Linked DNA regions of Homo sapiens: all the other regions are reported to be linked to region 3. The links are microRNA targets in miRTarBase. Many come from high-throughput screens and were not tested one by one. Region 3 holds a microRNA gene; each other region holds the end of a gene's coding sequence.

The links. The annotated mature microRNA hsa-miR-6825-5p reads UGGGGAGGUGUGGAGUCAGCAU and lies in region 3 at 2,413-2,434, opposite strand. An mRNA with a match to its seed (bases 2 to 7 or 8) in the 3' UTR can be bound and repressed. Matches are read on the target gene's strand: a 7mer-m8 pairs with bases 2 to 8, a 7mer-A1 pairs with bases 2 to 7 and ends in A, and an 8mer does both.
Region 1: miRTarBase lists SCAMP4 as a target of hsa-miR-6825-5p. Seed matches in the 3' UTR shown: 7mer-m8 at 633-639, 7mer-A1 at 803-809, 8mer at 1,178-1,185, 7mer-A1 at 1,329-1,335, 8mer at 1,939-1,946, 8mer at 1,998-2,005 and 1 more.
Region 2: miRTarBase lists EVC as a target of hsa-miR-6825-5p. Seed matches in the 3' UTR shown: 7mer-A1 at 976-982, 8mer at 2,988-2,995, 8mer at 3,129-3,136 and 7mer-m8 at 3,377-3,383.
Region 4: miRTarBase lists KLF16 as a target of hsa-miR-6825-5p. Seed matches in the 3' UTR shown: 7mer-m8 at 3,154-3,160, 7mer-A1 at 2,978-2,984, 7mer-m8 at 2,394-2,400 and 7mer-m8 at 1,442-1,448.
Region 5: the mRNA of CST9 is a reported target of hsa-miR-6825-5p. Seed matches in the 3' UTR shown: 8mer at 525-532, 8mer at 1,091-1,098 and 7mer-m8 at 1,263-1,269.
Region 6: the mRNA of LBX1 is a reported target of hsa-miR-6825-5p. Seed matches in the 3' UTR shown: 7mer-m8 at 3,306-3,312.
Region 7: miRTarBase lists KBTBD3 as a target of hsa-miR-6825-5p. Seed matches in the 3' UTR shown: 7mer-m8 at 2,655-2,661.

What each region holds. Positions count from the first base shown.
Region 1 is chr19:1,923,687-1,927,749 of GRCh38, forward strand. SCAMP4 (secretory carrier membrane protein 4) reads left to right here. Exons shown (of 7, transcript NM_079834.4): 7 at 422-2,327. The coding sequence ends at 598. Among named protein-coding and RNA genes, the nearest start is that of CSNK1G2, 15 kb to the right of the region's middle.
Region 2 is chr4:5,810,334-5,814,395 of GRCh38, forward strand. EVC (EvC ciliary complex subunit 1) reads left to right here. Exons shown (of 21, transcript NM_153717.3): 20 at 6-117; 21 at 620-3,972. The coding sequence ends at 704. Among named protein-coding and RNA genes, the nearest start is that of CRMP1, 81 kb to the right of the region's middle. RefSeq lists an enhancer at 2,649-2,698.
Region 3 is chr3:127,572,893-127,576,955 of GRCh38, forward strand. MIR6825 (microRNA 6825) reads right to left here and starts at 2,439; the gene lies at 2,374-2,439. TPRA1 (transmembrane protein adipocyte associated 1) reads right to left here. Exons shown (of 11, transcript NM_001136053.4): 5 at 3,929-4,001; 6 at 3,725-3,804; 7 at 3,048-3,158; 8 at 2,857-2,917; 9 at 2,511-2,613; 10 at 2,293-2,373; 11 at 1-896. The coding sequence ends at 629. RefSeq lists enhancers at 1,985-2,564, 2,565-3,143 and a silencer at 2,418-2,597.
Region 4 is chr19:1,851,018-1,855,080 of GRCh38, forward strand. It overlaps KLF16 (KLF transcription factor 16), which reads right to left. Exons shown (of 2, transcript NM_031918.4): 2 at 1,382-3,743. The coding sequence ends at 3,442. Among named protein-coding and RNA genes, the nearest start is that of REXO1, 4.6 kb to the left of the region's middle. RefSeq lists enhancers at 2,924-3,480, 3,481-4,038, 4,039-4,063.
Region 5 is chr20:23,599,788-23,603,850 of GRCh38, reverse strand. It overlaps CST9 (cystatin 9), which reads left to right. Exons shown (of 2, transcript NM_001008693.3): 2 at 117-1,441. The coding sequence ends at 341. Among named protein-coding and RNA genes, the nearest start is that of CST9, 4.1 kb to the left of the region's middle. RefSeq lists an enhancer at 984-1,485.
Region 6 is chr10:101,223,849-101,227,911 of GRCh38, forward strand. It overlaps LBX1 (ladybird homeobox 1), which reads right to left. Exons shown (of 2, transcript NM_006562.5): 2 at 3,146-3,942. The coding sequence ends at 3,422. LOC124902491 (a long non-coding RNA gene) reads left to right here. Exons shown (of 2, transcript XR_007062267.1): 2 at 1-344. Among named protein-coding and RNA genes, the nearest start is that of LBX1, 3.6 kb to the right of the region's middle. RefSeq lists an enhancer at 2,266-2,767.
Region 7 is chr11:106,049,519-106,053,581 of GRCh38, forward strand. KBTBD3 (kelch repeat and BTB domain containing 3) reads right to left here. Exons shown (of 4, transcript NM_198439.3): 4 at 1,580-4,063. The coding sequence ends at 3,332. Among named protein-coding and RNA genes, the nearest start is that of KBTBD3, 26 kb to the right of the region's middle.

The DNA.
Region 1 (4,063 bases), not on the chromosome of region 3:
CTGCTCACTGCAAGCTCCGCCTCTGGGGTTCATGCCATTCTCCTGCCTCAGCCTCCCGAGTAGCTGGGACTACAGGCGCCCGCTACCGCACCTGGCTAATTATTTTGTTTTTGTATTTTTGGTAGAGACAGGTTTTCACCGTGTTAGCCAGGATGGTCTCAATCTCCTGACCTCGTGATCCTCCCGCCTCGGCCTCCCGAAGTGCTGGGATGACAGGCGTGAGCCACCGTGCCCGGCCTATTTTTTATATTGTAGTAGAGACAGGGTTTCACCATGTTGTTTGGACTGGTCTCGAACTCCAGAGCTCAGACAGTCTGTCTGCCTCGGCCTCCCGAAGTGCTGGGATGACAGGCGTGAGTCCCCGTGCCCGGCCGCCATGCTCATTTTCTGTCTTCTGCCTCCCTGTCCTCTGTCCTTGCAGGTGCACAGGATCTACCGAGGGGCTGGCGGAAGCTTCCAGAAGGCACAGACGGAGTGGAACACGGGCACTTGGCGGAACCCACCGTCGAGGGAGGCCCAGTACAACAACTTCTCAGGCAACAGCCTGCCCGAGTACCCCACTGTGCCCAGCTACCCGGGCAGTGGCCAGTGGCCTTAGAGGGAGCCTGCCCTGCCCCCACCGCCCACCACCTCCTCCCCTTCATTCCTGCTGCTACCCCTGGTCCCGAGGGCTGGGAGTACCTGGGGCCCCATCCCCCCAGCTGGGATGGTGGAAGCCGGTGGTGGCCACGGACCGCCCCCCTCCTGCCAGGGCCACAGAACCCGTGTTCATCTCATCCGAGAGCGGAGTTCCTCACAAGCACTCCCCAGCAGCCCTTGGCCTCTGCCGTCCACAGGACGCCCTCTTGCTCCCGGAAACGTGTGGTCACCCGCCGTCCACTGCACGGCTGGTACGGCCTTGTCTTCAGGTCTCGAGGCCTGACTCCGGGGGACAGGTGGCAGCAGGTCGGCCGCCCTCCCGTCCTCCCAGAGCTGCTGGCGCTGAGGTCAGAGCGGGTCTGATGGGGAGCTCCGTCTCACCGGCCACCCGCCGTCACCATGGCAGATGCCCTTGGCCGGAACTAATAAGAGGCGTCGGGGCCAGCTTCCGGTCCCCTGCAGTGATAGAGGGCTTGGTGCCTAGCTGAGTCCTCGCTGTCCCCGCCATCCCCTGATCTGTGCGGCTCCAGCCTCGCCCCCTCCCCACGTGCACCATACCTGGGGAGTTCCTGGTCCAGGGTATCCTGGGGCCACCCTCCCTGCCTCCAAAACAGGGATCCCTGGCAGGCTGTCTTTCCACGCCCCTGAGTTCAGAGTCGGGGACCCAGGCCAGGTCGGGAGCACAGCCGCTCCCCAAACCCAGCAAACCGGCAGAGAGCCGGTTTCCCAGCAGCCGGAGCCCTGCAGGAGAGGCCTTTGTGTTTTGTTTTGTTTTGTTTTTTCTCTTTTGAGACAAGAGTTTCACTCTGTCGCCCAGGCTGGAGTGCAGTGGTGTGATCTCGGCTCACTGCAACCTCTGCCTCCCGTGTTCAAGCAGTTCTCCTGCCTCAGCCTCCCAAATAGCTGGGATTACAGTTGCCTGCCACCACGCCCAGCTAATTTTTATATTTTTAGTACAGATGGGGTTTCACCATGTTGGCCAGGCTGGTCTCGAACTCCTGACCTCAAGTGATCCACCCGCCTTGGCCTCCCAAAGTGCTGGGATAATAGGTGTCAGCCACCGCGCCCAGCCTGGAGTGGCCTTTTATGAGAGGGGACCCGTCAAATCTGTGCCTTATGGAGGGGTCCGGCAGCGGCCACAATTGTCTTGTCCCCTCACCCCCCAACTCCCCCTGGAACACCTCTCCCAGGCAAGACATTTTCACAGCACCATTCACAACGGTTGGGCCAAAAAGAAACTTTTCCTTCATCATTTCCTGCACTCGCTGACCACAACTTTGGACACCCCAGGCTGCCACCCCTCCCCACCCGTTCACCCCCAGGATGCTGTTGCTGTAGGACGCCTGCTGCCCTGGAGCCCTCCCCAGGATGTGAGCCAGTCCCCTCGCTGGTACGGAATGCCGCTGGGTGCCCGGAGGCGGCCATGGTGTCTCGATGGACGGCAGCCAGGATGGAGCACCCATGGGTCTCACGGCCATGCTTCAGGGTCTTCAGGTCCTGCCCCCGGCCAGTCTGCCAAGAGGCACCCCCTTCCCCAGCCTCTCGCCTGCACTGATGCAGACAAAATCTCACCTGGCAGGCCCAACCCCCCCCCACCCCTCCCCCGCCGTGTGTGGCCCCTCGCCGCATCGTTGGGGTTTTGTTATGTGAAAATATCCTGGAAATAAATACATGTTTCTGCACTTAGAGCCAGGGACCTGCCGCGTTTGTGCTGTGAGCATGTGTGGTTCCCCCAGGCCGTCTTCTCCCTTGGGAGACCCCTCAGCATATGGCCTCTGGCAGGATGCCCCCCTGCAGCGCCTCCTCCCACCCAGGCCCCGGGTGCCCTGTAGCCAGGTGTGCCCAGGGCTGACCCTGCCATCCTGGCCAACGTGGTGAAACCCGGCCTCTACTAAAAATACAAAAATTAGCCGGGCGCGGTGGCGGGTGCCTGTAGTTCTAGCTACTCAGGAGGCTGAGGCAGGAGAATTGCTTGAACCCGGGAGGCGGAGGTTGCCGTGAACCCAGATCGCGCCACTGCACTCCCCACCGGCTCAAAAAAAAAGGAAACTTGCACAGATGGAAAGCCAGTGTCACTGGCCCTACGTAAAAAGCAAACATCGGCCAGACGCAGTGGCTCACGCCTGTAATCCCAGCACGTTGGGAGGCCGAGGTGGGCGGATCATCTGAGGTCAGGGGTTCAAGACCAGTCTGGCCAACATAGTGAAACTCTGTCTCTACTGAAAACACAAAAAATTAGCTGGGCGTGGTGGCACACGCCTGTAATCCCAGCTACTCGGGAGGCTGAGGCAGGAGAATCGCTTGAACCTGGGAGGCAGAGGTTGCACTAAGCCAAGATTGCACCATTGCACTCCAGCCTGGGTGACAGAGTGAGACTCTGGAGAGAAAAAAAGGGGGGTTGTGGGGTGTGGTGGCTCACACCTGTAATACCAGCACTTTGGGAGGCCGAGGCAGGCAGATCACCCAAGGTCAGGAGTTCAAAACCAGCCTGGCCCACATGGTGAAACCCTGTCTCTACTAGAAATACAAAAATTAGCCAGGTGTGGTGGCAGGTGCCTGTAATCCCAGCTACTTGGGAGGCTGAGGCAGAAGAATCAGTTGAACCTGGGAGGCAGAGGTTGCTGTGAGCCAAGATAACGCCACTGCACTGCCACCTGGGTGACAGAGCAAGATTCTGTCTCAAAAAACAAACCCAGCCGGGCGCGGTGGCTCACGCCTGTAATCCCAGCACTTTGGGAGGCCGAGGCGGGCGGATCACGAGGTCAGGAGATCGAGACCATGCTGGCTAACACGGTGAAACCCCATCTCCACTAAAAATACAAAAAATTCTCCGGGCATGCTGGCGGGCGCCTGTATTCCCAGCTACTCGGGAGGCTGAGGCAGGAGAATGGCATCAACCTGGGCGGGGAGCTTGCAGTGAGCGGAGATCGCTCCATTGCACTCCAGTGTGGGCGACAGAGCGAGACTCTGTCTCAAAAAAAAAAAAAAAAACCAAAAAACAACAAAAGAATAAACTTACTACATGTTAATATTTTTTTTCAAATACTTTGTTTTTTGAGACCGAGTCTCACTCCGTCGCCCACACTGGAGTGCAATGGCGCGATCTCCGCTCACTGCAAGCTCCGCCTCCCGGGTTCACGCCATTCCCCTGCCTCAGCCTCCCGAGTAGCTGGGACTACAGGCGCCCGCCACCACGCCCGGCTAATTTTTTGTATTTTTAATAGAGACGGGGTTTCACTGTGTTAGCCAGGATGGTCTCGATCTCCTGACCTCGTGACCCACCCGCCTCGGCCTCCCAAAGTGCTGGGATTACAGGTGTGAGCCACGGTGCCCGGCCTCAAATACATTTTTTAAACAGGAGGATGGGTGGCATACTTTTTTAAATGTGTGCAAAACTCTTGAACATCTGGCTTCATAGAGGACA
Region 2 (4,062 bases), not on the chromosome of region 3:
TACAGAGAAGCCCCTAAGGACTAAAAGGAAGAAGCCCCTGCCCCAGGAAAGAGGGGACCTGGGGGTGCCCAACAATGAGGACCTTGCCTCCGGGGACCAGACCTCAGGCTCACTCAGGTATGACTGGGCCCCGGACCTGTTGCCTGTGGCTGGGTTTGGTAAATGCACTCAGCTGCTGTGTGCCAAAAGTCAGGGCAGGAAAATCATCAGTCCCCTCAGAGGCATTAAATGTGAAGGTTCAAGAAATGACAGATATGAACGTAATTTGTGGGCAGTAAGCCATGATGATACCAGGGGTGCCACATGGCTGTTACCCTTCCTGTTTGTGTCTCATTTGGCCAGATGAGCCTTGACCTACCTCCACACCCCATTGGCATCCAGCCTGAAGTGTTGGGCAGTCCCTTCTTTGACCAGGGATGGCTGTGGTCATGGCACTTGGATGACCTCCTACCCAAGGAGGGAAACGGGTTTTATTGGTTTCTTAACAACCCATGTCAAAGTAAAAATTGTTTTGATCACCTTTGGCTGCATTTTCATTTAATCCGATTGGGTAAGTTATGGCATCATGATGGGCATGGAGTCAGCGTTCTAACTGGCTGCCTTTCTTCTCTGTTTTAAGCAGCAAAAGGCTGAGTCAGCAAGAAAGTGAAGCTGGGGACAGTGGGAACTCAAAGAAGATGCTAAAGAGAAGAAGCAACTTGTAGTTTAAGACCAGTCGGTGGGACAAGACCTGAAGCCCTGGGTCTGGGTGTGAATTCCACCTTCCCTCCTGCAGTGCTGAGAGGCAGCGAGGACGGAGAGGACAGCGGCATCTCTAGGCTCTTCTGAGAGGGACAGAGAAAGAATAGAAATGTGCCCTAAAAGCATAAATGAGTATCACCTGAGAAAATTAGGCATTCCCGTCTTGGAAACACGTCTCTGTGAGTTTGCATTTCATTTGGCTTGGAGCCCTGGCTCGATGCCTCATGGATCTTTCTCCCCAAGGAGGGACGTCTTGAGGGGTCCGAGCCTCAGGCCAAGGACCCCTGATGCAGACTCTGGAATCCCTGGCCCAAAGGCCTGTCTGGGCCCATCTGGGGCTGAGGACACACAGATACATAATGACACCTGCAGAAATGTATTCTCTGAGGACACTTAGAATATGAGGAAGAGGGTGTGGCCCAACCCTCACTTCACCTGGGGAGGGGCTTCTTCCGGACAGTAGACACCCTGCCCGTGCAGAGAGATGTCATGGGGGCACCTGCTCTCCCTGATAGATGCTGAGAGCATCCAGAAACTTCCAGACCAGCCCTCTCACCACACCCAGAAGAGGCCTTTCCCATCTGGAGAGAAGCTTCCAGACCAGCCCTTCACACACCACAGCCAGGAGGGGCCTTTCCCACCTGGAGAGAAACTTCCAGACCAGCCCCTCATACCACAGCCAAGAGGGGCCTTTCTCACCTGGAGAGAAATTTCCAGACCATCCCCTCTCACCACAGCCAGGAGAGGCCTTTCCCACCGGTAGAGAAACTTCCAGACCAGCCCCTCACACCACAGCCAAGAGAAGCCTTTCCAGCCTGGAGAGAAACTTCCAGACCAGCCCTCTCACTACAGCCAGGAGAGGCCTTTCCCGCCTGGAAACTTCCGGACAAGCCTCTCACACACCACAGCCAGGAGAGGCCTTTCCCACCTGGACAGAAACTTCCAGACCAGCCCCTCTCACCACAGCCAGGAGAGGCCTTTACCACCTGGAGAGAAGCTTCCAGACCAGCCCCTCACACCACAGCCAGGAGAGGCCTTTCCCACCTGGAGAGAAACTTCCAGACCAGCCCCTCATACCACAGCCAAGAGGGGCCTTTCTCACCTGGAGAGAAACTTCCAGACCAGCCCCTCACACCACCGCCAGGAGAGGCCTTTCCCACCGGGAGAGAAACTTCCAGACCAGCCCCTCACACCACAGCCAGGAGAGGCCTTTCCCACCGGGAGAGAAACTTCCAGACCAGCCCTCTCACTACAGCCAGAAGAGGCCTTTCCCACCGGGAGAGGAACTTCCAGACCAGCCCCTCACACCACAGCCAGGAGAGGCCTTTCCCGCCTGGAGAGAAGCTTCAGGCCAGCTCCTCACACCACAGCCAGGAGAGACCTTTTCTGCCTGGAGAGAAACTTTCAGACCAGCCCCACACACCACAGCCAGGAGAGGCCGTTCCTGCCTGGAGAGAAGCTTCCAGACCAGCCCTTCACACCACAGCCAGGAGAGGCCTTTCCCACCTGGAGAGAAACTTCCAGACCAGCCCCTCTCACCACAGCCAGGAGAGGCCGTTCCCACCTGGAGGGAAAATTGCTCCTTTGATGGAGGTTAGGGACTGTCACCCTCAGCACTGTGAACATACCGGGCGAGATCATTCTTCAGGGGAAGGAGCTGCCCAGAGCATCACAGGATGTTCCAGTGTCCCTGGTCTCTGCCCACCAGATGCCAGCACTCCCACCATTCGTGGCAACCAAGGATGTCTCCAGACACTGCCCCGTGTCCATGGGGTTATCACCCACTGTGCTGAGTCAAAGGGTGCCTTGCCCTGGTCTAATCCAGGACATAGCCGTGGATACGTCCAAAAATCCCCAGAACCTAGTGAGCCCTCTGGCTCTGGGAGCCCCTATCTCAGGAATTTTCAGGGTCATTTGTGACTTTTCATTTCTTAAAACCTGAAATAGACTCTCTTAGAAACAAGTGACTCCTTCCCAGTGGCCAAAACTTAATCATCAGAGCGCTTCCTTCAGTTCCTCACCCATCAGCCAGTGGGCTCTCCAAAGTTAACCAACAGCTCCCTCTTGTGGTTCACTAAAAAACTTGGTTATTCCATGGAGTTGTGCAAAGCTATGGCTTCCTTGGTGCAATATTCTTAAAACCTGCTTTGCATAGAAATCACTTTTGCCCAGGCTGGAGTGCAGTGGCGTGATCTCGGCTCATGGCAATCTCCATCTCCCGGGTTCAAGCGATTTTCCTGCCTCAGCCTCCCCAGTAGCTGGGACTACAGACGTGTGCCACCACGCCTGGCTAAATCTTTTTTGTATTTTATTTTAGTAGAGACGGGGTTTCACCATACTGGCCAGGCTGCTCTCGAACTCCTGACCTCATCGTCCACCTGCCTCGGCCTCCCCAAAGTGCTGAGATTAGGCGTTAGCCACCGCGCCCGGCCAGAAATCACTTTTATATTGTCACATGGGCCCTCTGCACAGAGTCCGATGGCTCCTCCCGGGGAAGCCTGATTTTGTGACGTGTGTATAGTAAATGCAGGCCCTCTGGCAGCACCATAATTGGTCGGTTACCCTGAGCCCAGAGCTCTGAAAGCATCTGTGGAATGATCACGGGACCCTTCTCCTCTGAGAAGGCTCCCGGCTGCCTCCCCGCCACCGAGCTTGTAGCCTGAATGCCTGGCTGTCGCATGGAGCATTTTGCTTCTGGGGTGTCTTCCTTAGCCAAAGGGAACGTGTCATTTGCTCGACCCTGGCCCACCCTTGCCGCCCAGCTGTTGTGCTGGGCACAGTCTGGGGCACAGGCCTCCATGATGAAGACGCGTGGGCTGTCGGTGCTTTCATCCGTCACAAACTGGCACCTGTACCTGCCAGCAGGAGCATGATGGGGACTTCCATGCTGGAATTGCTCCCTGATTAAAATGAGATATGGCTATTTGGAAGACACTGCATTTTAGCCAGTGTACCTGGGCACAGACTCGGGGCTGCCCTGAAGCTGATGAAGGCTTGAAGGACGGAAGGGCTGAGCCACATGAAGGCAGCACTCAGGGCCAGGGGAGAGAGAAGAGGATCAGCAGTGCAGCCCCAGGATGCCTCGCAGGTACCCTGCCTCCATTTTGGTTACCATCCCCACTTATTATGGGCTGTGGGCTGTTATGGTGATGGATGGATGTGGATTTGGAAGGGGACCATGAGAGATGATGTATTATGATGAACTCATGATTTAATTCTTTGGTGAAAATAGCACCCTCTGACCTGTACTTGAGACCGCAGGATGAAGCCAGCACGGTTTTTTGTACTCCCCCAGGGTGAGTGCACTCTCCCAGGACCCTC
Region 3 (4,063 bases):
CGGCAGCTGGGATCCTGTTTCTCTTCACCTCCCCAGCAGCCAGCCCAGGGCTTGGGCACTGGGGACTGCTCCTTGGTTGAGCAGAGGCCCCCTGAGCCTCCCAGCCCCTCACCCAGCCCTCAGGCTCCTGAAAGGAACCAGCCCCAGTATTCCTGCAAAACCTCCACATTAGCACCTTCTGCTCCTTTTCCTTTTTATTAAAAAATAGATCAAGAAAATATACACACTTCAGTCCATCCACCATGGTGGATGCTTTGAGGAGGCCAAAGCACCATGGGGATGGGATGGAGGCATTGGGAGAGCCAGCCCTGCCCTCGTGCCAAGGGTGCAGAGAAGGAGGGTGCCCTCAGCCAACCTTGCCAAGCATGGCCCTGGAAGGAAAGCCTGGGCCATGTCACTGAGCAGTATGAGAGCAGGTGGGAAGGGGAGGAGGGTCCCCAGTGAGAGCAGAGATGGCAAAGGGGATTGGGAGCCCCAGGGAGGTGGGGCCTCCAGACTCATGGTGGGAACAGGGCCACACAGGGCTACTGCCCACAGAACGTCCCTTGACCTGGTCCTCCTCCCCTGGGGACTCTGGGCCTGCTGGCCTCCTCTCTGGCCTGTCCTCCACAGGCCCTGGCAGCTGCCCTCAGGCATTGATGGCCTTCCAGCGCTCGCTGTCTGTGCTGTTGATGCTGCCAGTGTGGCAGGGCATGGAAGCGATGTCATCCAGGTAGGCCACCCCGCCGGCAGAGTCGAACTGCGTGCTCGAGTAGCTGGCAGCTGAGGCCCCAGCAGCCCCTGCAGCCTCCAGGCCCTCCCGCCGGGCCACAGCGTAGGGCTGGGGTAGGTGTACATCTGGCTCCTCTGTCTCGTCCACTTGGCATTTGTAGGAGAAGAGGATCTTGGGCTCCGAGCTGATAAAAGGAAAAGAGGGGCATGGAAGCCTCACTGAGTGATTCAGGAAGAGCCTTCCTCTCCAGGCTGATGGGGCCACCAGATAAGGAAGGAATTGACCAACAGTCGCCTGACACCCACTCTGAGTGGGCCTGTGAGCTGGACCCCAGAGCCCATCTAGACTTGTTTTGGAACCCAGCCCTCCTCCCCCTGGCTGTGTGAGCTCAGGCGGGGGGCATCTGTGCCTGCTTCCTCATGGTGAAATGGGTGTGTGGACACCGTGTGGAGGAAGAATGGACATAAATCATGAGGCTTCAACAGTGCCTGCCCAAGCACTCAGGAGACATTGGCTGTGGCCTCCGCCCCCACTCCTGTGACCCCTGCTGCTCATGTTACCACCCACTCCACTCTGACCTCGTCCCTCGGCCCTCAGGGCAACTCTCCAAGGGGGACACACTACACCCAATTTACAAAAAGGAGCCTGAGGCTCAGGGGAGAAATTGTGTGCAAAGATCCAAGCTGGGGCCATGGACCAGTCTGGCCCTCTCCCAGCTTCACCCAGGTGGGAGGCTGATCCCCTCCCCACAAGACCTGGCAGGTGAGAAAGGGGGGACAAAACACCCACATTCCGACCACATTAAGGTCTGGAGTGGGACCCCCAATCCCATGTCTTCAGCATCCCATCTCACAGACGCTTCTGCAGATGCACATGTGCACAGCAGTGTACTCACCCCCAGAGAATCCAACTGACTTCCCACCCCAAACCTGCTCCCCACTTAAGTCTTCCCCCAACAGGGTACAAGCTTTGTGAGGACAGGATTTGCATCCGCTGTGGGCCTCGCATCTTCTGGCTCTAGCAGTGTCTGGCACACAGTAGGTGCTCAATGAATGCTTGCGAATGAATGAGTTAATATATTATTAAATAAAAACCAGCAATGTAGAACACCGTGCATAGTCACTCTCTCTCTCGTGGGGAGAGTATGTCTGTGTGTACTGTACATACAATGTGCATATATATGTATGTATATGTGGATATGTGCATATATCTACATGTATGTATATGTTGAGCACGTGTTCATGTGTGTATGCATGCATGTGGGTGTGCACGTGCATGTTTGTGTGCATATGCCCGTGTGTATCCGTATGTGCGTGTTTGTGTGTGCATGTGCATGTGTGCATGCTTGTGCATCCGTGTGTGCATGTGCACGTGTCCATGCACATGTGGGTGGGTGTGCGTATATCTGTGTGCATGTGCATGTGTATCTGTATGTGTGTGCCCAAGTGCATGTATGTATGTGCGTGCGCATGCGCACTGTATGCATACACAGCCTCTCAGCTTCAATCCTCACACCCATGCTGGAAGAAGGCGCAGTTCCGCCGGCAGCCACGCGGGGGCGCCGGCGGCCACAGACTCACCCGAAGAAGCCCCGGAGGAAAGCCACGTAGATGAGCGGAGCGAAGAAGCTGAAGTACAGGAAGGTTGTGGCATCTACACAGCTGCGGAGAAGGCGGGTCAGCGCGGGGCCTCCTAGCCCCATGCTGACTCCACACCTCCCCATGCCCCCAGCGGGTGGACACCCTGCCGCCCACTTCCCATGCCCCCACGAGGCAGACACCCTGCGGCCCCCACGCACCAGAGCCCCTCGATGATGTCGAAGCACAGCAGCACACTCCCCAGCCCCTGCAGTAGGTTGAGCAGTGCCAGGATGCCCGCATACACGTAGAAGCTCCTCCGAGCTGGGGGCCGGACAGGGTGGGTCGTGAGGTCCCACCCTGGACAGGCCAGGCTCTGCCTCCAGCACCTACTACCCTCAAGCCTGGTGTGTCCCCCGGGGCCCCTCTAGGCCTCCCTCTCACCCAGGGCTCTCCAGCTCCCAGCCTGGAACTCTACAGCTCCAGCTCCCAGCTACCAGCTCTACAGTGGCCCGGTAGACTCCCTCCCATCCCCGCCTGTCCCAGAGCCGCCGGCCAGCTGCTCACAAGGCAGGGAGATGCGCTCCTTCAGCGGGGTCTTGGGAAGGATGACCACCAGAGAGTAGACCTACAGAGACAGGCAGGGCTGAGAAGGTGCTGGGGGCGCCAGCCCAGACCCACAGCCAGAAACCCAGGAATCCAATCCCTACCTGGCCCTAAGGCCCCAGCCACCCCAGCTGCCCCAGCCTGAACCTCACCAGGAAGAAGAAGCAGGAGCTGACCAGCCAGAACTGGCGGCCCCCATGGCCATAGATATTAAAGTCCTCAGCTGAGAGATGGGCATCAGGGTACAGGATCTCCAGGGTCCCCTGCAGGGGCAAGCAGGAAGGGAGGAAGGGAGAGGATCTCAAGGCTTCTCTCTCCCAGGGGCTTTCCCTGATGCAAAGCCCCCTAAGCTCTCCACCACACCAAGTTCAGCCTCTTGGCCTGACCCTCAACTCACCTGCCCCAGTCTGCTCCCTGGCCATGTCCTGCCCAACTGATTGCAGCATCCAGAGCCGGCCCAGTCTTGGGCTGAGTCACATGGGGAAGGGGGCAGAGATGGACAAGGTGCAGTCCCTGCCCCCAATCTAAGAAAGGGGCCTCTAGATGCATGCTTCTCAGGGGGGTCTGCGGACCTGCACCATCCCTACCTGAACTCCTTATTAAAACGGCAAGTCCTGAGCCTCCCATCCTGGCGCCCTGGCCCACTGGATCCAAATCTCCAGGGGACCCCAGAATGTGCCTCGGTAACAAGCACCCCATGTGATTTCTCAGGTGCAAAGTTTTGAGAACTCTGAAGGTGATAAAGACTGGAAACCTGACCCAGACCCAGAAGCAGTGGGTGCCTGGTGCCCTGACTCCTAGCGTCCCCTGCCCACACTCACCCTCTTACCTGGGTGACAGAGTAGGCCAGGGACAGCACTGTGGTGATGGCCAGCACCCGCTTGATGCTGGACTTACTCTCCAGGTGGCCTGGAAGAAACATGCTGGTCAGCAGGCAGGAGCCAGCCCAGGTGACCACTCCAGAGTCAGCCCACAGCCAGGGAGGGGCAGGGGAGAGCATCGCCAGGGCCCAAGAGCCCAGCGGTACACACACCAAAGGCCAGGCCCAGGATGATCACACTCAGCTCGATGGCCAGCAGGAAGAAGCGGGTGATCTCCCACAGGATCTGCACGCAGAGTGGGCACAGCGTCAGCCTGGACCAGCATCCCCAGCCCACCCCAGGCCAGG
Region 4 (4,063 bases), not on the chromosome of region 3:
CAGACTTGCCCCAGGTGTTCACGGACACCCTCTGGTGGCCGTGGGGAGGACAAACCGTGAGGAGACCAGGGCCAAGGTGATTGCACTGGTTCAGGTGAGTCGTGAGGAGGCTAGACCGTCGCGGTGGAAGCCCTTACAGCAGGGAAAGGCGGCCAGATCCTGGATCTATTTTGAAGGTAGAGCCCAAGGAGGTTTCAGATGGGCCAGATGTGGGTGGTGAGACACACAGTGGGGTCCAGGGTGACTCCCCAAGGATTTTGGCCTTGCAGGATGGAACTGCCCTCGACCGAGGAGGGGGCATGGCAAGAGCAGCCTGCGGGTGGGAGGGACGCCCGGGAGGGTCGGGGTCCCAAAGGCACCAAAAGGATGGTGCTGCTTCTGGGCACGTGTGTGTGCTGGGGGTGGGGCGTGTAATTTAAAAGCCTAATGCGAGTGTGTCCGTCAGAGAGAGGGGTGAGGCTGCGAGTGTAGACCCCATATTCTAGACATTTTGCTCCAGAGGGGCAGAAAACCAGGCAGGAGCTGGAGGGGTGCGAGAGTCCCGGGAGTGATGTTTGTGGGGCGTCCGGTAGGATGGGAGGATGGGTCGGGCAGGATTGGGGGTGCACGAGGGAGGCTGCCCTCGAGTAAAGCCGGGAATTTGCCGCCCAGGTTGGGGAGGGGTCTGGCGTGAGCCGGCGCCGGCCGCGCGATACGAGAGGCCGACCACCCCCTTCCCCGGGCGGGCAGCAGGCGAAGCCCCAGGGCTCAGCAGGTGTGTAGGAGTGGCCTGCCCGGCCCCATCCCAGCCCCGCCGGCCTCCAGGCTCTGGGGAGCGCTGGAGTCCACAGTGGTTTTTTCCTGGGGAGGGCCTCAAAGCTCTCACCGCCCCCTCTTCCCTATTCCCACTAGGGGAGCTGGCATACAGTAGGCGCTCAATACAGGAGCACAGGAGCCTGGGAGGCGGCCGGGGGACCCTCCGTGGAGGAGCCTGTCCCGCGCCGGCGAGCAGCCCCGGGGGCGCAGGCTCCCCCATCCCCTGCGGCACCGGAAGGGGCGGGCGGTGGACGCCCCCGGGCGCCCTGTCACTGTGCCTCGGTTGCCAGGCAACGGGGCGGGCGGGAAGCTGGGCGGGGGGCGCAGCTGCGCCAGGCGTGGGTGACACCCGGCGGGCGCAGCGCGCGCTGCTGCAGGCAGCCCCCTCCGCGGGGCTTAGGGCTAGGGGCAGGGCATTTTGTGTCTCAGCCAGAGGGGCCTGGCCAAGACCCCCTTCACTAGCCCGCTGCCTCGGTTTCCCCACGAGGTGGATGAACTTGGGACCACACTGGTGGGTGGGACAGAGGGATTCAGAGCGTGCCCACAGGTGGGGACTGCCACGGGAGAGACCACACACACGCTGGAGTAGGGTTTAAAAAGGGGCTTGTTTAATTAATTAAATACAAGGATGAGGCCAGGCAGGGCGGGGGAGGGGCGCCACCCACGGAAAGCACACGCCTCTCGGAGCCGCCTCCCCTGCAAACGGCTGGAACCAGGTCCCAGTGATCAGCGACTCCTGGGAGAGTGGAGGGGTGGGCGCAGGTCTCTCCAAGCCCCTGGACACTGGAGAGGGGCCCAGTTATAGAGTTCTGGAACCCACAGCCCTACCTACCCCTGCTCCAGACAGGCCCCTGCCAGGGCTGGGGCCAACCAAGACTCACAAAGGAAAACGGGGCCCCAGTCCCCCACCCACCCCCACAGACTAAGGCATCTCACTAGCGCTGCCAGAAGAGGGTTTGAGGCTAGGGACAGAGAACACAGAGAGCCGAGGGCTGGATGGGGCAGGACCCTCCGAGCCCAGCTCCAGAAGGGCGTCCCCTGCCTCCCTCCCCCCAGGATCCCAGGCACCCATCCCTGGATCCTGCCAGGCCGGGGCTGGGTCCAGGTGCACACCAGTGCCATCCAAAGCCCCCCTGTCCCCAAGCGAGAGGCAGGACGGTTCTGGAACAAAAGGGGGTACCAAAAACCTCCTGCAGCCAACAGTGGGGGGATCCACCTTTCTGGGTCTGACATGGAACCGGGGACCCTTCTCATTCCAGGCTGGGGGTCCTCAATACCCCCCCCAAGAGGAAATGCAACCCAGGCCACAGCAGGACGACCGCTGACAAGGACACAAAGGTGGCCCCCGAGGAACAAGTCCCCACCCCACCCAAGTTCAGCTCAGAGACCCCCCACACACACTCACACCCCCTGAGGATGCCGGACCACCCATGGGGGCCCAGAAAAAAAGGAATCCGTGCCTGAAAAAATATTCTACCCGGTGCAAAAAAAACGAGCTACCCCAGGAGGCTGCACAGCCAGCCCTCTGCTTCCAGTCCACGAGGCAAGACCTCAACCACGGGCCAGGACCCACCTCTTCCAAGCACCCAGGAGAAGGAGGGGAGGCCAGGGAAGCAGGGCCGGGCCAGGCTGCAGCCCAGGCCCGGAAGAGCCTGCAACCCCGGCGGGCATGGGCTCCACGGCCCCACCTGCAGGCCAGGGAGGGCAGCGCAGCCCAACAGCCGCAGTCGTCGTTAAGGGAGAGTTGATTGTCACGTGATACCGCAACGGCCAAAGTCAGCAAGGCAGGGACTGGAGGCCCAAGCCCGGTGCCAGCCTCCCCTGCAGCCTCTCTCACCCACCCACCCAGAGAGGGCGAGCTAGGGCCCCCACACCCGAGGACAGAGGAAAATAAATAAGCCAGGATTCCCTCCCGACCCCACTGAGTCAAATGTTCTTTGGAAGAACCCAGAGGTCCCCTCCCTCCCCATCCCAGGTCTCAGAAGCAACACCTGGAGCCCCTCCGGGCATCCTAACGCTGCCCCACTCCTGGCTCTACCCCCGAGGTCTGGGGGGCCAGGCAGCCCCTACCGTGGGCAGAACTTGTGGACACCTGAGATTGAGTACCCGAATGGGGGGTGGCTGGGCTGCACCCCCATTTCCCTGAACTACTCCCATGGCTTTCGGTGGGGTGGGGGTGGGGTGGGGAGAGGCAGGGGCCGTGTCAACCCCCGACTCCTCTATGGCTGTCTGAACACTTCATCCCAATCTGCAGGGATGGGGCAGGGGGTGCTTTCCCCGGGCCGGCTCCCAGAAGTCCACTCCACCCCCCCAAACCCCACCCCGGGAGGGGGGCAGCAGGGGGTGGTGGAGAGGAGAGGGGAGGACCTCCTAGCTGCCCTGGGGGGGCCCCGTTGCACAGATGGGAAGAAAGTTAGTATCATGGCTATTTACAGACACAAGCCCCCGTCACCCATCCTGAGAGCCACCTCTGAGGTCAGGCAGACCCAGGTCCAGTCTCAGGCCCCCTCCTCACTCTCTGGAGGGGGGCAGGGGTGTCTTCAGGGTTTGCCCACGGCTGGAAGGGGCCCAGGCTCCCCGTGGGTCCTCACTACACCCCTGGATGGCAGAAGCATCCTGGCGGTCAGGGTGGGCTGCACGAGGGCCCTACAGGCCTGCGGGGGCTGGGCTGGGCGCGGGGCTGGGCGCAGGGCTCCCGGCCAGGCTGCAGGGCAGCGAGTCGCTGGGGGAGGTACTGCGGGCACCAGGGCGCCGGAGCAGGTCCGGGTGGAAGCCGGGGTGGCGGCGGGCGTGCTTGGCCAGGTGGTCACTGCGGGTGAAGCGCTTGGAGCACAGAGGGCAGGAGAAGCGCTTCTCGCCCGTGTGCGTCCGGTGGTGGCGGGCCAGCTCGTCGGAGCGGGCGAACTTCTTGTCGCAGCCCTGCCAGTCACAAGCAAAAGGGCGTTCCCCTGGACGGAGAGACAGAGACAGACAGCGGGTCAGCGGGGGCGGGGGGAGATGACAGACACGTTCCAGCAGATCCCAAAGGGTGGCGGGCATTTGTCCCGTGCCGTTTTAGAGGCTGAGCTCTGGTGTGAGTTCAAAACATGGAGAAGCACAAAGAATACAACCCTTACCCGCCCCCCGGTGGCCCAACACGAGACCCTAATAAATAATCCTCTTATTTCCTACCAGCTCTTAGAAAGGACTCTCCGGCGAGCCCAGAATCTGTTAACCGTAAGTAACCGCCGCAGACCCCCAAGGCTGAAGCTCCCCAGGCCCTCGCAGC
Region 5 (4,063 bases), not on the chromosome of region 3:
AAGCTCTCAAATGCAGTAAAGTGTTGGGGCCTCTCCTACTCAAATGGCATCTTCACTAGTAGCTACTTAGGGGCAGGAAGACGGTGCATCCACTTTAATCTTCTTTTGTCCAACAGTGGCGAGGTAAGATGGTGTTCTCCATGAATCTGCAACTGCGCCAAACCGTATGTAGGAAATTTGAAGATGACATTGACAACTGCCCTTTTCAAGAAAGCCTGGAGCTGAACAACGTAAGACAGGGCATCAGCTTTCCTCAGGTCCACAGCTGTGGATGCTGCATGGGGTGTGGTGTGGGCACAGGAGCAGCTGACAAAGCCATTCCGAGGGACAAAGGGAAGTGAGCCCACAGCAGGCTGTACCAGGCTGCCCTGCTTGTGCCTTAGTGGGAAGCCCAGTGAGGCATTAAGCCCAGGGGTTCACTTTCAGGCCCCTGGCCAATCTGAGTTTCCTGATTCTGCCCTCTGACACCATTGCAGCTGCCTGCACCTGGGCCACATGGCCTTCAGAACCTTCTCTCTGGTCTTCCTCCCCACTTCTTCCCTGCCTTCTAGAGAAAGAGCCTGGAGACAATGGTGACAATGTCTGTGGGTACTTTTCTCAGGGTTTCCCTACCCTGCCCTAGACCCAAAAGTGGTGGAGGCTGAGAAGAAGCCCCACTGCCCTCGCTCCTAGGCCCTGCTGAGCTGCAGCACCTGCTCTAGGGGACGAGCTCCAAGCAAAGCCTGGCTCTGGGAAAACTTCCCATTCTTAGTCAACCCCCTTATTGTAAGATTAACAAATAGGTAACTAATTGCCTAAGTCTGGGAACTGCTTCCACTGGGACAAAACATTCTCCTGCTGCTCTTGGATGCAGGGATCACACCAGGACAGCCTGGGGTTCCCCTGAGGGGCACGGGCTGGAGGAGGAGGCATGGCACAAGTGACCCTGGCTAAGGAGGGAGGGAGCCTCAAATCACGTTGTAGTTCAGGATTGGCCTCAGGCTCAGGCTAGACCTGAAGGCCAGAGCCACGTGGCACAATTGCTGGCCCCAGGAATGGGCAAGGTGGAGATGGAACCTGTGTTGAGGGCAGATGCCACAAGATTCCCGAACCTCCCCAAACCCCGCCCTACTGTCTCTTCCTGTTTGTTCCCTCGGACCTTCAGCTGCTTCTTCACTGTTGAAACCATGCCCTGGAAGACATATTTTGAACTCCTGAACAAGACCTGCTCAGAGGGGCTCTCCTGAGTGGAAGCCACTCACATGCCTGGCCACATGCTGCCCCCTCCCCCGTGGACACCAGCTGTTCCCAGGAGTTGACATATCAGTGGCTGAGCAGCTCCGTGCATATTTGTTCTCTTATTTTGCAAGTGTCTGAGGTTTTATGACTTGGCATTTTAGAAAATCCTCACTGTCCAGGTTCCTCAAGTAGAATAGGTCATTAAACATCAGCATTTGCAGAAGCTTCCTGTGCCATGTTCTGGAGGGAGGGGGCTGAGCAGTTGATGGAGTTCCTCTCAGAAGGGCAGCCTATTTGCATCTGTGTCAGTGGGGTCCTCCCTCCCTTAAGACCTCATAAGCCAGCTTCCAGGTGGCACAACCAAGATAAGTCTGAGCTGCTGTCTCCATGCTCGTGGCTGATGATGACCCATGTGGCCAGAGGTAAAATGTCTGTGATCTTGCAGGACACCCAATGTGCACAACTGAGCAAGACAGGGCCTCTGGGTCCCACTCAGCACATGTGGCCTCTGTTCTCAAGGGGTGGCTCACACACCTTTCCTGGTTCGTGGAAGGTTGGTGGGAAGAGGAAGGACTTCTAGCCTCACCCTTATAAAGCTGTCCTGGCATCTGGAGCAGCAGCATCTTCTGAAAGAATCTTAGAAATGTCCAACTTCAGGGCCTCTGACCTTTGGAAAATGCATCTGCGCTCTTACAAATCCCCAGGGATGCAGAAATCCCCTGAAAATGCAGGATTTGCAGGAATGCACACCCCCAGGGGATGCAGTGTGAGAGGCACGGGCAGACTAGATGCTACCAAGACATTGCCCAAATCACCTAAACCAGGGTTTGGCAAAAAAATTTTCTGAAGAAGCCAGAGAGTAACTATTCTGGCCTTTGTGGGCAGATGGTCTCTCTCAGCTACTCAGAATTGCTGTCGTATCTTGAAAGGAGCAATAGCCAATGTGCAAACATGTAAGAGTGGTTGTGTTCCAATAAGTGTTTATTTACACAAACAGGCAGTGAGCTGCTTGGGCCTCAGGCCATAGTTACCAGTCTCTGATGCTAAGAGCTCCTCTGGACCCTGGTGCCCCTGAGACACACCATGCTACCAGCTCCCACGCCAGGCACCTGTATCTCCCCCAGCTTCACTCAGGGGTTGATCTGTGCAAATGAGCTCCATCAGCAGAGCAGGTGCACCCTGCAGGTGTGGGAAAGGTCACATCTGAGAGTCACATTCTGTCACTGGAAGTGAGCAGGTATATGTCCCAGTCTCCCCAGCCTCAGGGCACCCAATTCAGGGTTGAATTTCTGCATTTGCCTCCCAGCAGGATATACCCCTATGGTCCACAGTCTGGCCTCGAGAAAGAAACCATCACATCCTCCAGCTAAAAATTAAATAAAGTACTCTTTCTGGACAAGACTTAAGTTTCTTCTCCATGAAGATGCCTTCAGCATTTATCTGTAGTTACTTGTGAACTTCAAAGGGACTAGAATACCCTGAAGGCAAGTTCTAAATACCCTAAACCTAAGTTCTTATTCTCCCTATCCCCCAGGAATCTGAACCACTAGGTCTGGGCAGGGCCAGGGAATTTGCATGTCTCACCACCTCTCCTGGGACGGACCTGCTCCTGGTACCCAGACCACACTTGGAATGGTGCAGGTTCAGAAGCCATCATTGCGGGGTGCATGCAGACCAAACCACAAGTGAGAAGTAACTCACCTCAAAGGGCATTGGGATGAGGCTGAGAATGGCTTCTTCATTGCACGCTGAATTGGGGAAGGGGTCAGAACACTATGCCTGATTGTAAAGAAAAAGGAGAGTTTCTAGACCCCAGGCAACAGGACGGTGCCTCTGGAGAAGAGAGAGGCTGCACTGGCCCTGACAGCCTGGCCCTCTGCACTGCAGCTCCTCAGAGCTGGAGCTTATATTTAGTCAGTTCCCATAATTAATTGTTTAAATTTTTCTACTTTTTTGTATTATGAAAAGTGGTATGATGAATGCTTCTTTTATATTTATCGCTGTGTATATATGGTTATTGCTTTCTTATAGGCAATGTGCTCAGAGATTAAACTATTGCCCAATATTTTCATTAAAATTTCTTAAGAATTTTTAATAAACATTATTACAATGTCCTCTATTAAAGCAAGTAATAGGTCATTATCATGAGGTTGCTTTTGTACCTGGAGCTCTTTCATAAGCAAACCAAAACTTAACTTGGAGGCATTTCTCATGGCTGACTTACAAATTAAAATCTAGCATCAATCAACCACAAACAGGCAGCCAGTTAGTTATATAACTAGGGACCTCTGATCACAAGATACCCAAATAAGGCAAACACCTAGGACCAGGAACATCACCATTCCCTGTGTGCTGGTTAGAAATGCAATTTTCCTGGCCCCACTCACACCTACTTGGTCAGTGTCTTGGGAAGTGGGGTGGCTAAAACTTGGGTTTTAACATCCGTTCAGGGGATTCTGGTCTCTCTGAAGTTTACAAGTGCCTGCAGATAAATATTGACATCATTACACCTATCATTACATCATGCCCAAATAAGGTAGACATCTAGCTAAGCCAATCAGGTAACTTCTTGACTTTGCTCCCTTGTTCAGCCTGGGAAACCTTGCTGTTTATGCTACTAGAGAAAAACTTTCTCAATCTTTTCCAGTTTTGAGTGTTGCCCAGTTCATGAATTCTTCTTTGCCCAAATAAACTCTATTGAATTCATTTTGTTTAAAGTTTTTCTTTAACAATTTAGTGTCAGATGTGGAATCCTAAGGCAAACTCCAGCTGCATCTAAGAAAACCTACTACCCAGCAAAGGCACCAACTGAGCCACGGTGCTCTCTTGCTGCAATTGGAAAGTG
Region 6 (4,063 bases), not on the chromosome of region 3:
TTCGTTACCCCTTCCCCCCGCCGCAGCTCTGGTCCTTCCTTCCACTGGCTCTCTTCTCTGGCCTATGGAAACAACGAACTACTTTTCGCCTTTCAAGGCCCGGGTCCCAAGCCACCTCCTCTGTGAAGCCGCCAACACCCTGGTAGCTGCCTCTCAGTGTTTTGCAACTGGCACGGCCCTGTCCCTCGGTCCGCTTCTACTAGCGCTGGGGGTGCTGCGAGTCTTGCCCACTAGACTAGGAGCTCCTTGAGGGCAGGAACCGAATCTGATTCGTTTCCATTTTCCCAGCCCCCCTGCGCGGCCTGGCGCAGAAAAGACGCGCAATAAACATTTGCTGAATTGAATTGCGTTTTCTCCTTATTTTATTAATCCTTCCCCTTCCTTCTTTCATTCTTTCTTTTCCTCCTTCCTTCCTCCCTCGTTATTTTTTATTTCTTGGTTATATTCAATTGTCATGTTTTTCAGGCTCATTAAATCCATTTAGAGACAAAAGAATAAAAGGCAGAAGGGGAAGGGCGGGGGAGGAGAGAGGGGGAAGGGAGGGGAGGGGGCAGGCCGGAGAAGCAAACAAATAACCCGCTTTAACTAGACGGGCGGATAAATGGCCCCGTTTCTCCTCAGCCCCGACGCGCCTGCTTAGCTGCGCGCCCCGCGGGCGCCGCAGCTCGGGTGGGCTCAGCCCTGGGGCCGCCGCCCCCAGCCCAAAGGGACCCAGCGGGGCCAGGCCCAGGGCCGCGAAGCAGAGAGCGGCCGGAGGTGCCAGGGCCGCTTCATTGGGATTCATGAGCGTGTTGGGCGGGCGGCCTGGGGCTTCGGGCGCGGGGCGGGGGCCGAGTGGGGGGGTGCGCACGGCGGGCGCAGATGCCCGGGTGACCGACCCGCCGTGGTCCCTGCGCCGCCTTTGTGCCGAGGAGGCGCGCGCGGGGACCTAATCCATCAAATTGTCTACAAATTGTGAAGAAAATTCAAAAACCATATGGTCGCCAGCGCCGGCGCGCTCTGGGCTGCGGAGGGCCGCGGCCGTGCCCGCACCGGGAGCCGCGGGGGGCTGGGCCCGGCTATTGTCGCCTGTCAGCGGCCGCCCAGGCCCATTCGTCCCGGCCTTCATGGTCCGCGCTCCGAATTACAGACCCATCCATCCTAAGAGAGGGCAATTTTTGTCGCCCGGGAGGAACCAGCCGCACGCCTGCCCCGCTGCCCTGCCGTCTCCTTCCTTCTCTGCTCCTTCTCTCTCTTCTCCTCTCTTCCCATTCTTTTTTTCTCCCTCTGTCTCTGTCTCCCTTTCTCCGTTTCTCTGTTTCTCTCTCTTTTTCCTCTTTTTCTCCGTCCTGTCTCTGTGGCTCTCCGCTTTCTCTCTCTGCTTTTGGAGTGTCTTTCTGTGCTCCTATTTTTTTTTCCTGTTTCTCTCTGTCTCTTCGTTTCCTCCTGGACACGCACGTTCCTGGCTCGGGCCCGGGGGCCCCATCGCCGCCCGAGACCAGATGCGCATTTCTCACATCAATTTTGCGGAGAAAGAGAGCCCAGCGGCCCGGAGGCGGGACCCCACTCCGGTGACAGCGGCTACTCGCCAGCCCAGCGACAACAAAAGCCCGGAGAGAAACCCGCTCTGTCCAGGAAAGTGAAAGCGGCCTCAGCCCCCGCCCCAGCCGGCCTTGGGGCGCCGCAGACCCGAGAGAGTCCTTGCAAGATCCATACCTCTGCCCCCAGCGGTGTGCCGGGGTGTGGAGGCAGAATTGGTTAATGTTGCCAGAAATTCACACCAGCTCCCAGACGCTTGGGCTTACAGTTCCAGGTGCCCACATTGAAATTCAGCCTGGCCTTGATGCCTTTAGCCTTTGGCCCCCGACTCCCCAAGGATGAGGCCCTCGGGGCTAGAATCGAAACTTGGGAACCCAAGGCTCCACCCCGCGTCTGACTGAGTGATACCTGCAGCGCTCCCGGGGCTCAGCCCTGTTTTCGGGGAGTGCAGGGAGAATGCCCTTGGGTCTGGGGTGGGATGCAGGAAATGCAGGGCAAGACCCCCTCCCACCCTTTGTTCAACACAAATTAATGTTGTACTGTGGTGTGCCCCCACATACACAGGCATTTTCTCCCAGCATTTCACGGCTCGTTTTTTACCCCGACCTGGCGAAGCCCGCTTCTCTCCCGATTTAGCAGCTGCCTCAGGTTTATGGGCAAGAGGCGCCTCCTCCTGCTGCTTCCCCCTCGCCCTTCACTCTTAAGCCTGTCCTGAAAATCCCCCCCAAATCTCCAAGGCTAGGGCGACCGGCACGAAGAGCGGCAAGAAGCCCAGCCTGCCGCTGCTTCTCGGAAACGGGCCCACCACTCAGACACGGTCGCCGCCGGTTCTAGTAAAATGGCAAAGACTTTATTTATTGGAGAAAGAGGCCTTGGGTACAGTCTAGGGAGGAGAGGGGAAGGGAGGAGCAGGGAAGGGGCACTCGCAGCCCACTCACATCCAGCCACCCTCCTCTGGCCAAGTCGGGTAGGAGTGGGGTGTTCGAAGTGGCAAGAGAGACCCAGAGCTGTGGAGGAGGTGAGGTGAGGGCTTGGGTCGGCCTCCTCTCTGTCTCTGTCACATGCAAAAAAATTCTAAAAAGAGTACAAAATAATTATAGGGCTTTGGGTTCTGTTTTCGATAGTTGGTTGGTTGGATTTCCCCCTGCATTGTCCCTAAGAGCCGGACTCCAACAGTCAGTCCGAGGAAATGCGGGAGGGAGGGAGGAATCTTAAAAACAGCATTAGTGGGCATTAGGAGGCAGAAATGGCATCGAAAACAGACTTTTCTCTCAGAGGGTGGGGAGGAAAGATCGATTTTGAAACTTGCAAGTCAGGACCTGACTGCCCACCTCTTCCCCTCCCACATGAGGAAAAAAGGCCCGAGGAAATAGAAGTCAACTGCAATAAGGCCGAGGGAGGCGAGGAAGGAGCGGGCCGGTGCATTCGCCACATGCAGAGAAAAATCAAAACAGCCGGAGCTGCCACTCCCCTAGACCGCAGGGTTAGTGTTCCCCGCCCTGGTTTCTGTCTCGCCCTCAGCAAACCCGGCAGCCCGAGAGCTTTGAAAACATCGAAATCTCCGAGATTTAAAAAATAATAATAAAAGAAAGGAAAAATCAGGCTGCGGTGGGAAGAACCCGCTATATAGGTTTAAATATTTATATAGAAGCCATACAGAATTGCACGGCGAGGGCTTCCGGGGCGGCGGAGGCCGCTGGTGGCGGCCGGCCCGGCCGGCCAGCCTGGGTTTATTGCTTCGAGAGGGAAGAGGCGGCTGCCAGGAGCCGAGTCCGGGGCCGGGGACAGGGGAGGAGGCGGGAGTTGGCAGAGGAGGTCCCAGCTCCCCTCGGCGGTCCGGTCCGGGAGGCGTTGGGCTTTCGAGCGCTAGGAGCCCAGGGCGGCGGAAGACCCGGGGCGCCGCTCAATCGTCCACGTCGATCTCTTCGTCTTCCTCGTCCTCCGAGCAGTCCTGGCTGCTGGCCGGCTGGTCCGTGAGCGGAGAGGCAGGCGAGAGCTGCAGGGCGCCAGCGCCCGGGGCCTTCGGGGCGCCTGGGGGGAGGACCGGAGAGCCGGGCCTCGACTTGGCCCTGCCGCAGCCGCCGCCACCGCCGGCTGTGGCCTCCGAGTTCTGCTCGAGTTCGGCCAGCGCCACGATGTCCATCTGCCCGCTGGGGCCCAGTTTCTTGGCGGACTCTACGTCGGCCTTCATCTCCTCCAGGTCCCGCTTGAGCTTAGCGCGCCGATTCTGGAACCAGGTGATGACTTGCGCGTTGGTGAGGCCCAGCTGCTGCGCGATTTGGTCGCGATCGGCGGGGGACAGGTACTTCTGGTATAGAAAGCGCTTTTCCAATTCATAGATCTGGTGGTTGGTGAAGGCCGTGCGCGACTTTCGCCGCTTCTTAGGGGTCTGCCGCTGCCCAAAGATGGTCATACCGTCGCGGCCTGGGAGGAAAGGACAGTGTAGGCTCGCGTTGGGAGAGAGGAAGCCCACCCTGGCTCTCGCCCCCGTAACTCCGTAACCCACCCAGGCCTGTCCGGCCTGCAGTCTACCAATGTTCCCTTC
Region 7 (4,063 bases), not on the chromosome of region 3:
TAATTTTCAGCCTTTGTGTTTAGGTTGCCATTCAGAGCTGCCCCCTCAGAGAACATTTTTGAGATTTATACTTTCAATTCTAAATAAGAATTTCCACAACACTAGATCCAATTAAACTGAGCATGATGATCTTAAAGTAACATTATATATTCAACTACTTAATCATTACATTATAATATTTATTGCATTCAAATCTCAAAATGTAAACAGATATATCCCTCTGTGCTTAATTCTGATTTTCAAATGGTATACCTTGAGCTAATAAGCACATTGAACATATATTCAATTGCTCTTCTTGGTATCTGAGAAATACAGAATCATATTGCAGCATGTGGTCGCTCTTGAATATTAATCTAGCTTTCAAGGGTAGCACGTAATGAATATTGCTGTGATAATGACCTCCTCCACTCCCCAGACCAGAGCTGATTATGGGAAAGTAGTTAGCTTTGATTATGCAAATATTCCTCATACTACTTAGTTTCAAAGGGTGTAGATGAACAAAAGTTGCTCCACATTTTAGGAATGTCCATTAACTTTGAATTGATCTCATGTTTTAAACATACTCTTTTTTGTATTTAATAATGCTGTATACCTACTTTAAATTTTAGAAGACATTACAATATTAAAATATTTTTGGCATGCATAATGCAAATGTAGTGGAGCATGACAAAGATAATGGATTTAGAAACGTTAAATAGAATTTTTCCACAGGAATGATAGCAATCTGAATAATAAGCGTAATTATTTTGTCTCTTGCACTGTAGCATTGGCTGACGGATATAATGAAAGGAAAACAGACTTTTAAAAACACTAAGGGAAGAGCCCATAAAAGGATGTTATTTTCTCTTACCTAACCTCACAGACAGAAAAAACAGCTCCTTCTGGAGGTACTGAGAATAGACTTGAGGGATCACTGAGATTTGCAGGTCAGAAATCCAGAAAGGAGGGTGAGGCCAGAATAATATATATGGTTCTTAGACAGTGAAGCCACAGTCATTAACAAGACCAGAGGATATAACCAGACTTTAGTCATTGCTCCTGTGTGGTTGAGTTCCTTGAGGGCTTTGAAGACACAAAACCATTTTCCCATAAGGCAGATGGATCAAATGAAAGTGCTATCTTTATAAGGAGAGGCCAAATATGAAAGGAGAGGAGTTAGCGGAGCAGAGTCTAGCATAGATTGCTATGGTGATCAGGAAAAAAAAAACAGTAAATAAAGAGTAGGAGGTTTTTGATTAGACAGAGTATTTTCCTTGCAGTGATAATTGGTGGAGAGAACAAAGGTACAGAAGTAAAGGGATGGCAATCACTGAAAATGATTAAAAAGTAACCCACGGTAATTATTTAAAAAGAAAAAACTAGGGCAGAAAACCTTCTGCATTAGAAAATGTATTAAATCAAATGCAGAGGAAGCCACCTAGGCTTTGATAACAAGAATGTTTCTGGAAACATTAGCATAAAGCAAAGGCCAATCAGAACAGTAGTGGAAATCAAGAAGATGATACAACAATGAAGTAATATCAAAAAGGGATTTGATTTTGGGTTTCTCCTTTCTGAAATAGATGAACAATTCCTAAAGTCAGTGATGAAAACAATATTTATTTTAAACATACTCTATTAATATATATCCTTAAATTAACAATTCAGTAAATGCACATATAGGCTACTCACTGTGTTATGGTCTTTCTCAAATAATTTGTTTTCAAAGCCACACACACACAAACAAAAGCCTCCACTGAATTTTCCTTTTTCAAATACACAAAGTTCAGAGCCAACTACTCATGTGCTTAGATAAGAAGGCCACCAATAAATACGTCATCTAATCAGGAACAGTCCTTGATTTTTAAACTTCATGAAAATGTACTCTGATATTCCATTCTGTTTTGAAAAATACATTTGGAACTTATCGTTGCATAAATTTATATGATAAAATAAGAGAATCTTCATTTAGGTGTATTTCTACTTAGGAACACACTTTTAAAGAATGTGCACATTTGAGAAAGATTAACATTTACAACTGAGTGTAGAAAACTACATTTGGTTCCAGAGAAGTACAATCTACACATTACCTGAGATGTAAAGCAGGGGTCTTAAAACCCAAAATGCCTTTATCTTTTAAACTGATTAAAGAAACATATACTCTTGGAAGGCAGAATCACCTACCTGAGAACAATGACAACAGTACCCTTACATTGTGTGGGTTAAAGATCAAACATCTTAACAGATGCAGGTTGTGAATACTATTATCAATACCAAAAGCCAAGTCATTTTTTTTAATTTAGAAAATAATTCACTAAGAATAATTTACTGAAGTAGTAAACCAACATAGTGCTTTATAGTTGGTATACATCATCACAGAAAATTGATATGGTACTAATTTAAATCCTGAAATGTTTTATGTAGCTGAAATTTGGATAAAGCTTAAGAAATGCCATAATAATGATCCACTTAATTAGAGGTCAATTTTCTATGTCCTTAATTAGGCTGGAACCTAGCAATGATACATAAAAAGTATTTTAGTACTGCCATCCCAGAATCCAAAAATTTCCAATTGAGGGTTACATGTTAACATAAACTCAGGCCAGGTGTAACTTAGAACTACTAATTAAATCCAGAATGTTAATTTACTAAGATTGAACCAGAAAATGAGAGGGGGGGAGGAGAGAGAGAGAGAGAGCTAGAAATTGAAACCAACTGACATTGAAAACTAATCAGCAATTTTTAAAGCATTTAAGTAACTGCTAATGGCATTATAACATGGTACATTATGCTTTTAATGAAAAAATGAGTCATTAAAAAAAGTTAAACTATGTTTAGTGTACTATTTATAAAGCTGGGAGAATTATTTCTGAACTAAAAAAGGGTAAAAAGGGTACCTAAAAGAAGTTAACCAATCATCACAAATGATAGGAATTCAACAACTCATACCCGCAGTAACAATATTCTCACCTCTGATTTATTTTTTACTTCATATAAGATACAGTGTAATTCATTTTTACTCTCTCTAGAGGTTTCTCCCATCTAAACAGTACAAATCTTTTATGGACAGAGTACTTTAAAAATCAAAGTGTCAGAGTCTATGATTTGTAGTTTCATGTGAAAATACTAAGTATTCTGGATTCCCCAAGGTTAAATTATATTCAGTATAATTTTTGGTAAAATATATTTTGTATTTTAAGTTTTTGGAAACTGTTTATTCATATATGGTGTACATACATAATAACTAAAAGCAGGAATGTTTTATTTCATTAAGATGTATAGATCTTTTTACCTATCATTTTGGTTAACAAATTTACTTTAGGTTACTAGAACTGGACTCGTTTTAGAATGTTCAAGCACATAGATTAGAAAACCATGGGTCTCTGTATTTATTAAACTGAATCACCTGGCAGTAAAATTCTGTTAAGGCTCTAGGCATTGGTGAAACTTCTTCCCATTCAGACCTGTTGCTGTGGTAGACCTGCACTTCATCTGTGATTTCATCTGGTGCATAATCACCACCTAATATATAAATTTTATCTTCAATTCCAATTGCACCTGCATTAAAGCCTGCACACTCAAAAGATCCTTCGCCTTTCCAAACACAAGTGTCTGGACAAAAACTATAAACCTTATAGGTGGAAAGGTCACATATATACAGTGTACAGTTTACTGGTACAGCTTTAATTAATGTTGCATGAAAAAATTGCCCAAACTCTGCTACTAGTTCAGACCACTGATCAGTTGTAGCATTGTATTTAAAAAAGCAATCAAGTGATGGGTTAAAAGCATCTGTAATCTCTACCTCTGATCCAAGAACATAAATTACATTTTGGCATGTGCTTGCTTCTGGATAGTATATGCCTCTGGGTAATGGGCTAACAGATATCCATTCTTTGGAAAGAGGATTGTAAGATTCAACATCTAAGAGACTTTTAATGTCCCGGGATCCTCTAGTTTTTCCACCTATGACAAATAATCTATCGAGAGCCATAACTGATGTATGCATGGTTCTTGGTGTTTTCATAGTTGATACCAAGAAGAAATCATTTTTCACTGGACAGTAGCACCAGGTTTGATCAGT